Linked DNA regions of Homo sapiens. The protein of the gene in region 2 interacts with the protein of the main gene of each other region in a pairwise test. Each region holds a gene or a part of one and is shown on either strand. Other genes may lie near its edges.

Evidence for each region.
Region 1: the proteins of MORN3 (region 2) and CDCA7L interact in binary tests that used the Homo sapiens proteins (3 or more experiments, as listed by UniProt).
Region 3: the proteins of MORN3 (region 2) and FARS2 interact in binary tests that used the Homo sapiens proteins (3 or more experiments, as listed by UniProt).

The regions. Positions count from the first base shown.
Region 1 is NC_000007.14:21,907,876-21,911,525, forward strand, and holds part of CDCA7L (cell division cycle-associated 7-like protein), read right to left. Parts: intron 633-3,650; coding exon 255-632; intron 1-254. UniProt on the Homo sapiens protein: Plays a role in transcriptional regulation as a repressor that inhibits monoamine oxidase A (MAOA) activity and gene expression by binding to the promoter.
Region 2 is NC_000012.12:121,667,453-121,671,202, forward strand, and holds the start of MORN3 (MORN repeat-containing protein 3), read right to left. Parts: upstream 2,203-3,750; 5' UTR 2,032-2,202; coding exon 1,887-2,031; intron 1-1,886. UniProt on the Homo sapiens protein: Assembles a suppression complex (suppresome) by tethering SIRT1 and MDM2 to regulate composite modifications of p53/TP53.
Region 3 is NC_000006.12:5,264,496-5,268,145, reverse strand, and holds part of FARS2 (phenylalanine--tRNA ligase, mitochondrial), read right to left. Parts: intron 3,157-3,650; exon of another isoform or gene 3,068-3,156; intron 705-3,067; exon of another isoform or gene 623-704; intron 1-622. UniProt on the Homo sapiens protein: Is responsible for the charging of tRNA(Phe) with phenylalanine in mitochondrial translation.

The DNA.
Region 1 (3,650 bases), on a different chromosome or scaffold from region 2:
AAGCAGCATTATGGCACCATGTAGGGGCTAAAAATGGTGCTGGGGAATCTCTTTCTGTTCCCAAACCAGAGCTGATCATGTAATAGTTGCTCTGGGTTCTGGAAAAGTAAAAGGATACACAATACCCAGAGTATATTTTCTTGACAGAAGCCAAAGCAACAGCAGCAGCTGTAGGAGCAAAGTGGTTCTGGGAGCCCAGCAACTGCTGCCAGAGCCTGGTGCCAACTCCCAGGACGCCCTCCGTGAAGCCTCACCATGGCTTTGTTCTCCTTGATGTTCATGGTCCTTTTCAGCAAAGCATCTGAACTCTCCTGGCTCTCATCCCGAGAGTCATCCTCAGACTCAGAGGTAGAATCTTCCCTTTGTATCACCTGTCTACAGTCTTTCTTTCTTTCAAGAATTGTTTTTTTCTCATTCTGTAAGCGTGCGCTAGAAAACAACTGCTCGGAAGAACTGTTTTTATCTGGTTTGTTGGCCAGCTTCTTGGTGGGGAACTGAAAGGCTACTCGAAGACCAATACTACTTCTTCTAGACCTGCTTCTTCTAGGGGTAGCCTTATCTTCTTCTTCATCTTCCTCTTCCTCGCTCACCAAAGATGCTTTGCCATCATCACTCAAATCTGACTCCACGACCTAATAAAATAAGAGCAAGAAAAAGCACAAAGACACTGTTACAGACCCACAAAAAAGACATGCATTTAAAACAACTGACAGCATTATGAGAAAAAACATGAAAAATGAAAAGCTTCCCCTTCATATTATGAGTTCCCTCTGAATTTCCTTTAAATGTGCAAGAAATTGGTTGATGAATAAAATCAGAGAGCAGGCAACCTACTACTGAACTGTGCACCATCATACCCGCGACAGAAATGGGTTCCATTCAGAGCATGAGGGCTGTAAGCAAAACACTGACAGGGTGGGTTCCTCCACCGTGGGACAACCAGGGAGCACCAGCAAGAGGAGAGACAGTCACAGAAAAGGAGAGACAGCAGCATGACAGATGTGATCTTCAGACAGGAAAGGACGCAACGGGGGAAAAATGCTGACTGGTCTCCTCTAAATAGCAGGAACCAGACTCCTGAATAACAGGGCGGGAGAGCTGACTGCACCTCAGGGCAGTGACCCAGGACAGGCAGATGACCTGCCACTGCGTCCTCAGTCAAGGGGCACCTTTCCCTTCTCTGGAACCCTCAGAGCCATGAGGTGAAACCAGGTCACAAAGCTCTACAGGTTGTAGCAAAACACCACTCAGTCAACTCAAGAAATCCTCACCCGACATTTTCAAATTCCACATGGCAGAGGTCTCCAGCATTCAAACATTGCTCTGTTTTACAAGTGAGAACACAGTAAATATGGAAGGCAGTAACAGGGATACATCACCTAGGTGACAGCTTGGATGTGACGGGACTCTTAGCAGTGGTACAGAGACAGGTTTAAGTATGTAAGATCTAGGACGTCTTCTGGGCATCCTTCCATGACCAGAAGCTAGAAAACTTTGGGAACCATTATCTGGGAATTCTGAAAATCTACCAAGAACACGGAATGGCACCGATACGGACCCAGGATCAGTTCAGGGACTCTGCTTCCTCCCCGGTGACGACCATCAACCCCAAACTCTCGTTGGACTAAAGTTAGAAATAAGACACAGGGAGAAAAAAAACGCAGATAACTGCCAACCCTGGTATATCCACACCAAGCCAAGTGAGGAGTAAGACTATATGGCACTGATTTATCTATTTTTTAATACCCTGAACTTCCCATATTAATAGCTTCAGAATTCAAAATGGTGTACTGCAAAGGAACCCAATTTCAGGGGACACTGTCAGGGAAGAACTTCAGTTTTGATCCATTTATCTACCATCCTCATCATCGACAGGCCTCTCTTTACCAGATGTGGAACAGCTCACTACAGAGGCCTGAAGGAAGGAAAGAACAAATGGTACACAGCAGCCCAGAATCAGACCCAAGAGAAGAGCACAAGTGTAGTACATGGATGTGGTTATTTCGCATCCGGCCAGCAGACCCCTGGAAACCAAGTTACAGCAATGTCCCATTATCAAGAAAGATAGGTTCGCCAGTTCCCACAGGGGTGGGCAGGAGGGTGGGCTGGGAGGCAACAATGCTTTTCTTCTCACTGGATTCTAAAATAAAATTTGCAAGGGCCTGTGCTGAACTGTAAGCTATATCATGATCTATGTAACTACATCACACAGTCCATAGACTTGGGGGCAGGTGGGAGGGAAGACTTCTGGGGTAATTCACTTTCTCTCACTAGAAATGCAAATGCTTCGAATAACCAGACATCACTTCACTAAAGAACAGAAAATAAGTACATTGCTAACTGATGATGCCCATTAGGGTTTTAGAAGCATCTTAATATCGTGCTGGCAAGAAGCTAGGGACTTGCTGGCCAGAACTGATGGAACTGCCACACAAACAGCTTCTGCAAAGAAAGCCAAAGGAGACCTGGGGCCTCCAGGCTGGCACAGCTCTATGTTGCTACTCATAGCAAAAAATCACTATCAAACGAAGCAGCCTACCATGCGGGCTTTTATGCTCTACATTCTCTCCTAGGACAAGTGAGGGACATGGCAGGCTAGGAGTCACGGCTTATTTATACCTCTACACAGTCTCTGCCAAAAGTTAGTCTTTAGCAGCTTCTGGCTGTGAAGAGGCGTAAACTCTACGTTCCATCTTCATACTGAAGAAGATAGTAGCATGTTTATTTTTTGCATAAATGTATGCTATTTTTAGCAGAAAACATTTCTGCACTTAAATCCGAAGGCTGTGCCTTAAAGTTACCTTCAGGTTCAAACACGAGTGGGCAGTAAACTAGCCTAACTGTGCAGGATAAAACAAACAAATAACTAACAAGTCTGTTCATAGGAAGTGCTGAGAGTAGACTTCCCTCCAGAATCCAGGCAGGCCTGGGTCATCTTTAACACTAAAAAGCATGACAAATCCAAATCCACAATGCATGGGGAACACCAAGTTTGTACCACAGCCAAATTTTTGCCAAATTAACTTCAAACCAAAAACTGTCACTTCACACACAGTAAGAAAGTATCTCAAGAAAGTTGTCATCTAAGATAAACTTTTAGATAAAAGAGGTTTAAGGAACTCTTGAGATAATTTTTTTTTTTTTTTTTTTTTTTTTTTTTTTTTTTTTTTTTGAGATGGAGTCTCGCTCTGTCACCCAGGCTGGAGTGCAGTGGCTCAATCTCAGCTCACTGCAACCTCTGCCTCCCGGCTTCAAGAAATCCTCCTGCCTCCGCCTCCCGAGTAGCTTGGATTACAGGTGCCCGCCACCACGCCCGGCTAATTTTTGTATTTTGAGGAGAGATGGGGTTTCACCATATCGGTGAGGCTGGTCTTGAACTCCTGACCTCAGGTCCACCCGCCTCGGCCTCCCAAAGTGCTGGGATTACAGGTATGAGCCACCGTGCCTGGCCAAGAGAGATAAATTCTTTGAGAAGGACAATAAAGGACGCCTGGGACACATCCCCAAAAACCCCCTAAGGCACGAGGAGAAGATGAATGGATTTTCTCTAAGAGAATAATGGACTGGTGGACCAGGGATTAGCCTTCCAGGAGCAATTTTTTTAGGTTATGTTAATTGCTTGTAAGATAAATATGTAAGAAAAATCTTTT
Region 2 (3,750 bases):
CCATGTTGGCCAGCCTGGTGTTGAACTCCTGACCTCAAGTGATCTGCCTGCCTCGGCCTCTCAAAGTGCTGGGATTACAGGTGTGAGCCACTGTCCCCGGCCTGCAACCTCTCTGACCTCCTCCTCTTCCTCACTCTGTTTCACCCACACCGTCCTCCTGGCTGTTCCTTGAACACCCCAGGTATATTCTCTGCTCCAGCTGGTCCTGCCACCTTCTATGCTAGTTCCTGCAAACATCCACTCAGTTACTCCCTCTCCTCCAAGTCTTTTTTTTTTTCTTTTTTTTTTGGAGACGGAGTCTTGCTCTGTCGCCCAGGCTGGAGTGCAGTGGCGAGATCTCGGTTCACTGCAAGCTCCGCCTCCTGGGTTCACGCCATTCTCCTGCCTCAGCCTCCCGAGTAGCTGGGACTACAGGCGCCCACTACCACAGCCAGCTAATTTTTTGTATTTTTAGTAGAGACAGGGTTTCACTGTGTTAGCCAGGATGGTCTCAATCTCCTGACCTCATGATCCGCCCGCCTCGGCTTCCCAAAGTGCTGGGATTACAGGCGTGATCCACCACGCCCAGCCCCACCTGGCCCATTTTTGTATTTTTTTAGTAGAGATGGGATTTCACCATATTGGCCAAGGTGGTCTTGAACTCCTGACCTCAGGTGATCTGCCTGCCTCGGCCTCCCAAAGTGCTGGGATTACAGATGTGAGCCACCACACCCAGCCTGGAACTGGGATCCTAACCCAGGTTTATTTGACTGCAAAGCACTTAACCCAGCAAGGCAGGAGAGCAGGATGGTTAAGAGCACAGAATTGGGCTGGGCGCAGTGGCTAAACGCCTGTAATCCCAGCACTTTGGGAGGCCGAGGCGGGCGGATCACTCGAGGTCGGGAGTTCAAGACCAGCCTGACCAACACGGAGAAACCCCGTCTTACTAAAAATACAAAAGTAGCCAGGCGTGGTGGCACATGCCTGTAATCCCAGCTACTCTGGAGGCTGAGGCAGGAGAATCGCCTGAACTCGGGAGGTAGAGGTTGCGGTGAGCCAAGATCGTGCCATTGCACTCCAGCGTGGGCAACAAGAGTGAAACTCCGTCTAAAAAAATAAAAAGAGCACAGAATCTAGCCAGGCACAGTGACTCCCACTTGTAATCCCAGCAATTCAGGAGGCTTGGACAGGAGGATTGCTTGAGCCCAGGATCTCGAGGCTGCAGTGAGCTATGAAGGCACCACTGCACTCCAGCCTGTTTTTTTGAGACAGAGCAAGACCTTGTCCCCTCAAAAAAAAAGAGTACAGAGTCTGGAATTGCAAGACTGGAGTGAGCAGCAGTGCCACATTTTAAAATAAAAGCTCTTTTTTCTTTATTTTTTTCCCCAGTCAGGATTTAGTTTGTATCAACAGGACCCCTTTGCCCCCTGCTGGTCAGACTTGGAGCCCCAGCTCCTCCTTGTGGGATGGAGTAGGGGGTCCTCCCTTGTGCCTGGCGCTCAGCCCTCTGCAGAGCATCACAGCTGAATGCGAAGCCCAGAACCCCACTGCAAGCTGGCTTCAGGGGCGTGGCTTTTCTTGTTGCCAGCCAGCCCAGTGCTTAACCCAGGTCTCAGAAGGCAGGAACTGAGCCCCCTAGGTCCCAGAGCCCCGGGGGCAGGCCAGTTTCTCAAGACCCTCTGTCCACTGCTGGTCCTGAGACCCTCACTCAGTTGAAGTCAGGGCTGAGTTTGTTCAGAAGCCCCAGCATGTGAAGGCCCCCAGCTGGCCTGGGCCAGCGCTCACCCTGGGGGAGCCTTGGGGACACATCTCATGTCCCCAGTGAGCTCTGCACTCTGCCTTCCTGGCCCTGTTGCCCACTGTGGCTCTGACCCCACTCCGGCCGCCCGTCCCGGAGTCCCACTCACCGTGTTTCACGTTGTCCTTCCACTCGCCCACATAGTAGTCGCCATTCACAGCGTATACCTGGCTCCGCAGGCCGTTCCTCTGGGCCTTCCGGTCCCACCCCTTCCACAGGGACTCCGACTTTTTTGGGCACTTAGAGACTGGCATGGTGGCTGCTTCTGCAAGGCTGGAGGGTGCTGGAAAGGGGTTAGGGACATCTGGGGCTCAGCGCGCCCCGTGTAATGCCGGGATCCTGAGCTCAAGTGGGGAGAGTCATGTGTGTTCTGAGTCCCTGGGGCAGGTGAACAGCCCTTAGTGGGGATCCTTTAGTGCTGGACTGACCTTTGGTTGGCCCCTCCCTTGCCTCTCCTGGGGCCCCCTCCCAGGGGGTCTGATGGCACAATTACTTGGGAATCTAGGGAAACCAGTAGAGCAGGAGGGTTTGTGATGGCATCAGGGAGAAGCTGCCCCCAGGGAGGGGGTGGCGGTCATATATACATATATATATATATATATATTTTTTTTTTTATGTCTTCTAAATATTTTTATTTATTTATGTATTTATTTATTTATTTAGAGATGGAATCTTGCTTTGTTGCCCAGGCTGGAGTGCAGTGGCACCATCTCGGCTTACTACAACCTCTGCCTCCTGGGTTCAAGTGATTCTCGTGCCTCAGCCTCCTAAGTAGCTGGTATTACAGGCGCCCACCACCACGCCTGGCTAATTTTTGTATTTTTAGTAGAGACGGGGGTTTCACCATGCTGGGCAGGTTGGTCTCAATTTCCTGATCTCAAATGATCCATCCACCTCAGCCTCTCCAAGTGCTGGGATTACAGGCATGAGCCACTGAGCCAAATATGAATCCAAAATATGAACCCAAAATATGGGTTACATATTTTGACAATCACACCTAGGAGTAGGGAAAAATAATTCCAGGCAAAGAAAATAGGCAGAGCAAAAGCTGGGAGTGGGGAAACAATCTCAGGTCCTAAATTCTATGCCGTTGGGATTTTTTCTTCTCCCATTTCCAAATATCACATGTACTATTAATCTTTATATGTAAATTAACTCACTTGGCAGAGGTTGCAGTAAGCCGAGATCATGCCGCTGCACGCCAGCTTGGATGACAGAGTGAGAACTTTTCTCAAGAAGAAAATAAAAATAAGTTAACTCACTTTAAAAAAATCAATACATATATTGAAAAAAGGAGGGCCAGGCGCAGTGGCTCATGCCTGTAATCCCAGCACTTTGGGAGGCCGAGGCGGGTGGATCACCTGAGGTCAGGAGTTCGAGACCAGCCTAGTCAACATGGTGAACCCTTGTCTCTACTAAAAATACAAAAATTAGCCAGGCCTGGTGGTACGCGCCTGTAATCCCAGCTACTCAGGAGGCTGAGGCATGAGAACAGCTTGAATCCAGGAGGCGGAGGTTGCAGTGAGCCGAGATTGCACCATTGCACTACAGGTTGGGAGACAGAGCAAGACTCAGTCTTAAAAAATAATAATAAAATAGGCCGGGCTCAGTGGCTCACGCCTGTAATCCCCAGCACTTTGGGAGGCCGAGGCGGATGGATCACCCGAGGTCAGGAGTTCAACACCAGCCTGGCCAACATGGCGAAACCCTGTCTGTACTAAAAATACAAAAATTAGCTGGGTGTGGTGGCGGGCGCCTGTAATCCCAGCTACTCGGGAGGCTGAGGCAGGAGAATCGCTTGAACCAGGGAGGAGAAGGCTGCAGTGAGCCGAGATTGCACCACTGCACTCCAGCCTGGGCGAGACAGAGTGAGACTCTGTCTCAAAAAAAAAAAAAGACTGGGCGCGGTGGCTCACGCCTGTAATCCCAGCACTTTGGGAGGCCGAGGCGGGTGGATCACGAGGTCAGGAGAT
Region 3 (3,650 bases), on a different chromosome or scaffold from region 2:
AATGGGAGAAAATTTTTGCAATCTATCCATCTGACAAAGGGCTAATATCCAGAATCTACAAAGAACTTAAACAAATTTACAAGAAAAAAATCAAACAACCCCATCAAAAAGTGGGCGAAGGATATGAACAGACACTTCTCAAAAGAAGACATTTATGCAGCCAAAAAACACATGAAAAAATGCTCATCATCACTGGCCATCAGAGAAATGCAAATCAAAACCACAATGAGATACCATCTCACACCAGTTAGAATGGCGATCATTAAAAAGTCAGGAAACAAAAGGTGCTGGAGAGGATGTGGAGAAACAGGAATACTTTTACACTGTTGGTGGGAGTGTAAACTAGTTCAACCATTGTGGAAGACAGTGTGGCGATTTTTTTTTTTTTTTTTTTGAGACAGTCTCGCTGTGTCTCCCAAGCTGGAGTGCAGTGGTGCGATCTCAGCTCACTACAAGCTCCACCTCCCAACTTCATGCCATTCTCCTGCCTCAGCCTCTCGAGTAGCTGGGACTACAGGCACCCACCACCACATCCGGCTAATTTTTTTTGTATTTTTTTAGTAGAGACGGGTTTTCACTGTGTTAGCCAGGATGGTCTCCATCTCCTGACCTCGTGATTCACCTGCCTGGGCCTCCCAAAGTGCTGGGATTACAGGTGTGAGCCACCACGCCTGGCCTGGACTGTTCTTTTCATGGCAAAGCTCCTAGAAGAGAGAAAACAAACTCTAAATAAATAATAGCTATCATTACAATAAGCTGTAGCTAGTTTGATTAACAAATCATCCTAAAATATCCAGACAATATGAAAACATTATTCCTAAAATACTGGTCCCTCATATGCAGCAAGAAAGAAAGAATGAAAGTGATCTATAACAGATTACAACAAATCACACTGTAAAAGAATTCTCATGGTGGTCGGGGTTTGTAGCATGAAAAGATGGTTTCTTTCCTTTACAATGAAAAGAATTAATGAGTTTTTTTTTTTTAAGAAAAAAAACCTCTAGAAATAACTGACATTTGAAATACTTTACACAAAATAAATTGTCAATTTTGTTGTTACTGCCCACAAATACGGGAACCCTTAGCCTCCAATCAATGAAGCTAGAGTGTCTAGTTGCAACATATCATAGCTTTCAAGATTTCTCAAAACAGAGAACAGATTTTCATAAGTATATCTGAAAAAAGCTTCTACAGAAATGTGAGTCTCAGAGAATCCCCCAAGAGGAAATGTCTCACATACACACATAAATAGACAACCTAAAAAAGCACTACGTCTTTTCAAAGAGATGTTAATAGAATAAAATGTAAATTTATCTTAAATAACTAAAAAGCTAGTATAAAATCAACATTTGAGATTCCCAGAATATTTATAATATTTCCAATACAAACCGGTTAGCTTTACAAATAAGTGAGAATCCAACTAAATTAAAATTCAAATATGACTGAAATGTACCCATGTTATCCAAGAAAAATCAATAACCTTCCAATTCCTGAAGCTGGTACTTTATCTGTGAAGCAGTGTTGTATCATAGCTAGACAGATCACATCTCAGGCCAAGGTCCACACTAGCTACTTTCCAGCTGTGTGACCCTGGCTAAATAAACTCTCAGCTTCATTTTTTTTTCTTTTTTTTATTCTATTTTATTGAGATGGGGTCTCGCTATGTTACCCAGGCTGGCCTCAAACTCCCAAGCTCAAGTGATCCTCCTGCCTCAGCCTCCCACAGTGCTGGGATTACAGATGTGAGCCACCACACCTGGGCAGCTTCACTTTTCTTAAATGGAGATAACAGCTCTTCCATCAGGTCATGGGAAGACTAACTCAAATCATATCAGGATTCAGCTCATCTCATGCCTAAAACATATGAAAGCCGATGTATTACCTTTTCACGGGATCTCCCCGTTCTCACCCTCATGCACTCTACAGCTCTGGCCAAAGCCTTCCGCAGGTCATGATTGTTTTTTCTTAGACCTCAATCAGGGTTTCTCCTTCATCCTTTCAAGGTAAAGGGTGAGTCATCTTCCACCTACAGTAGCCATCTTACCACCACATTCAAACATTTAAATCCTTCAATTCCTTTCAAGGCCCAGGAGAAACTTAAATCCTCTCAAGCCCAACACAAACACTACCTCCTCCATGAAGCCCCCTAATTCCTTCAGGTCAATGTTTCTCAGCCCTGGCTCTACCCAATCATGGAGAGAATTTTAAAAAAAAATTAAACAAAATTATCTGAAGCCTGGGCCTTAGCACTGCTGTTGGTCTGAGGTGTGGCCCAAGCATCAGGGATGAAGTGACCTCTCCTTGCACTGAGACCCCACAACGCTTCAGCAGCCCTTTGTACAGGATGGTAGAAAAGTTATTGCTGTTTTCACCCTTAAAAGTAACGGTCAAAACTGCAGCTACTTTCACCAACCTAATACCTTATTTTAATCATATACAAATGCATTTAAAGTATAAACTTCTGGAAAACAGGATCAGTGTTTGATTTATATATCGCCCTCAAGTTACCACAACAACAGTAACTTAAATTGCTAGGCTGCCAGCTATCTCTTGAATGCACAGGTAAATAAATAACATTTCAGTGCCTCTGGAATATAGGATTCAAAGTCATGATTTGAAACAAAAGGTTATCAGTACCTGAATAAATAATCTCCATTTCAACAGCTCAGCTGTTAAGTTCTACTTATATAACTCAGCCAATGCATAAGGGAAGAAATGATTTATTCCAGACAGAGAGAAAACATCACTAAAATAAAGCTAGTACAGGGCTAAACACTTCAGTGGTCCCTCCCTTCCCACCTCCTACCATTCTAAAACACTTAAGAGTTCTCTAAATAGATCAAGCACCCTTCTTCCTCCATGCTTGGATATACACTGCAATCTTTAACCACATTCCTCATCTGGCTTTTACTTCTCATTCTGGAAACACCTTCTACGATGGAAAGCCTTCCCATAGGTGAAACTCCTGGTTCAATATTCCTCTTCCCTATTCCTTTAGCGTTTACTAATATTACTCATATCGCAGCAACTGTCAAAAAGAAATTATTGGCCAAGTGCCACGACTCACAGCTATAATCTGAGCTCTTTGGGAAGCCAAGACAGGAGAGGCACTGAGGAGTTTGAGACCACCCTGGACATCATAGTGAAATCTCATCTCTACAAAAAAAAAAAAAAACACTTAAAAATCTGCCAGGCATGGTGGCATGAGCCTATAGGCCTAGCTACTCAGGAGGCTGAGGCAGGAAAATCACTTCAGCACGGGAGTTTGAAGTTACAACGAGATATGATAGCACTACTGCACTCCAGCTTAGTAAACAGAGACCCTGTCTCTATAAAATAAATTATTGTTTCGCTTATCTAGTCACCTACAAGTTTCTTAGGGGTGGGGAAGCTCTCATCACTGTGACTATATCATCTTATATAATATATGGTACTTATGGGCCGGGCGCGGTGGCTCACGCCTGTAATCCCCACACTTTGGGAGGCCAAGGCAGCTGGATCACCTGAGGTCAGGAGTTCAAGAAAAGCCTGGACAACATGGTGAAACTCCATCTCTACTAAAAATACAAAAAATTAGCCGGACGAGATTGCACCATTGCACTCCAGCCTGAGAAACAAGAGTGAAACTCTGTCTCAAAAAAAAAAAAAAA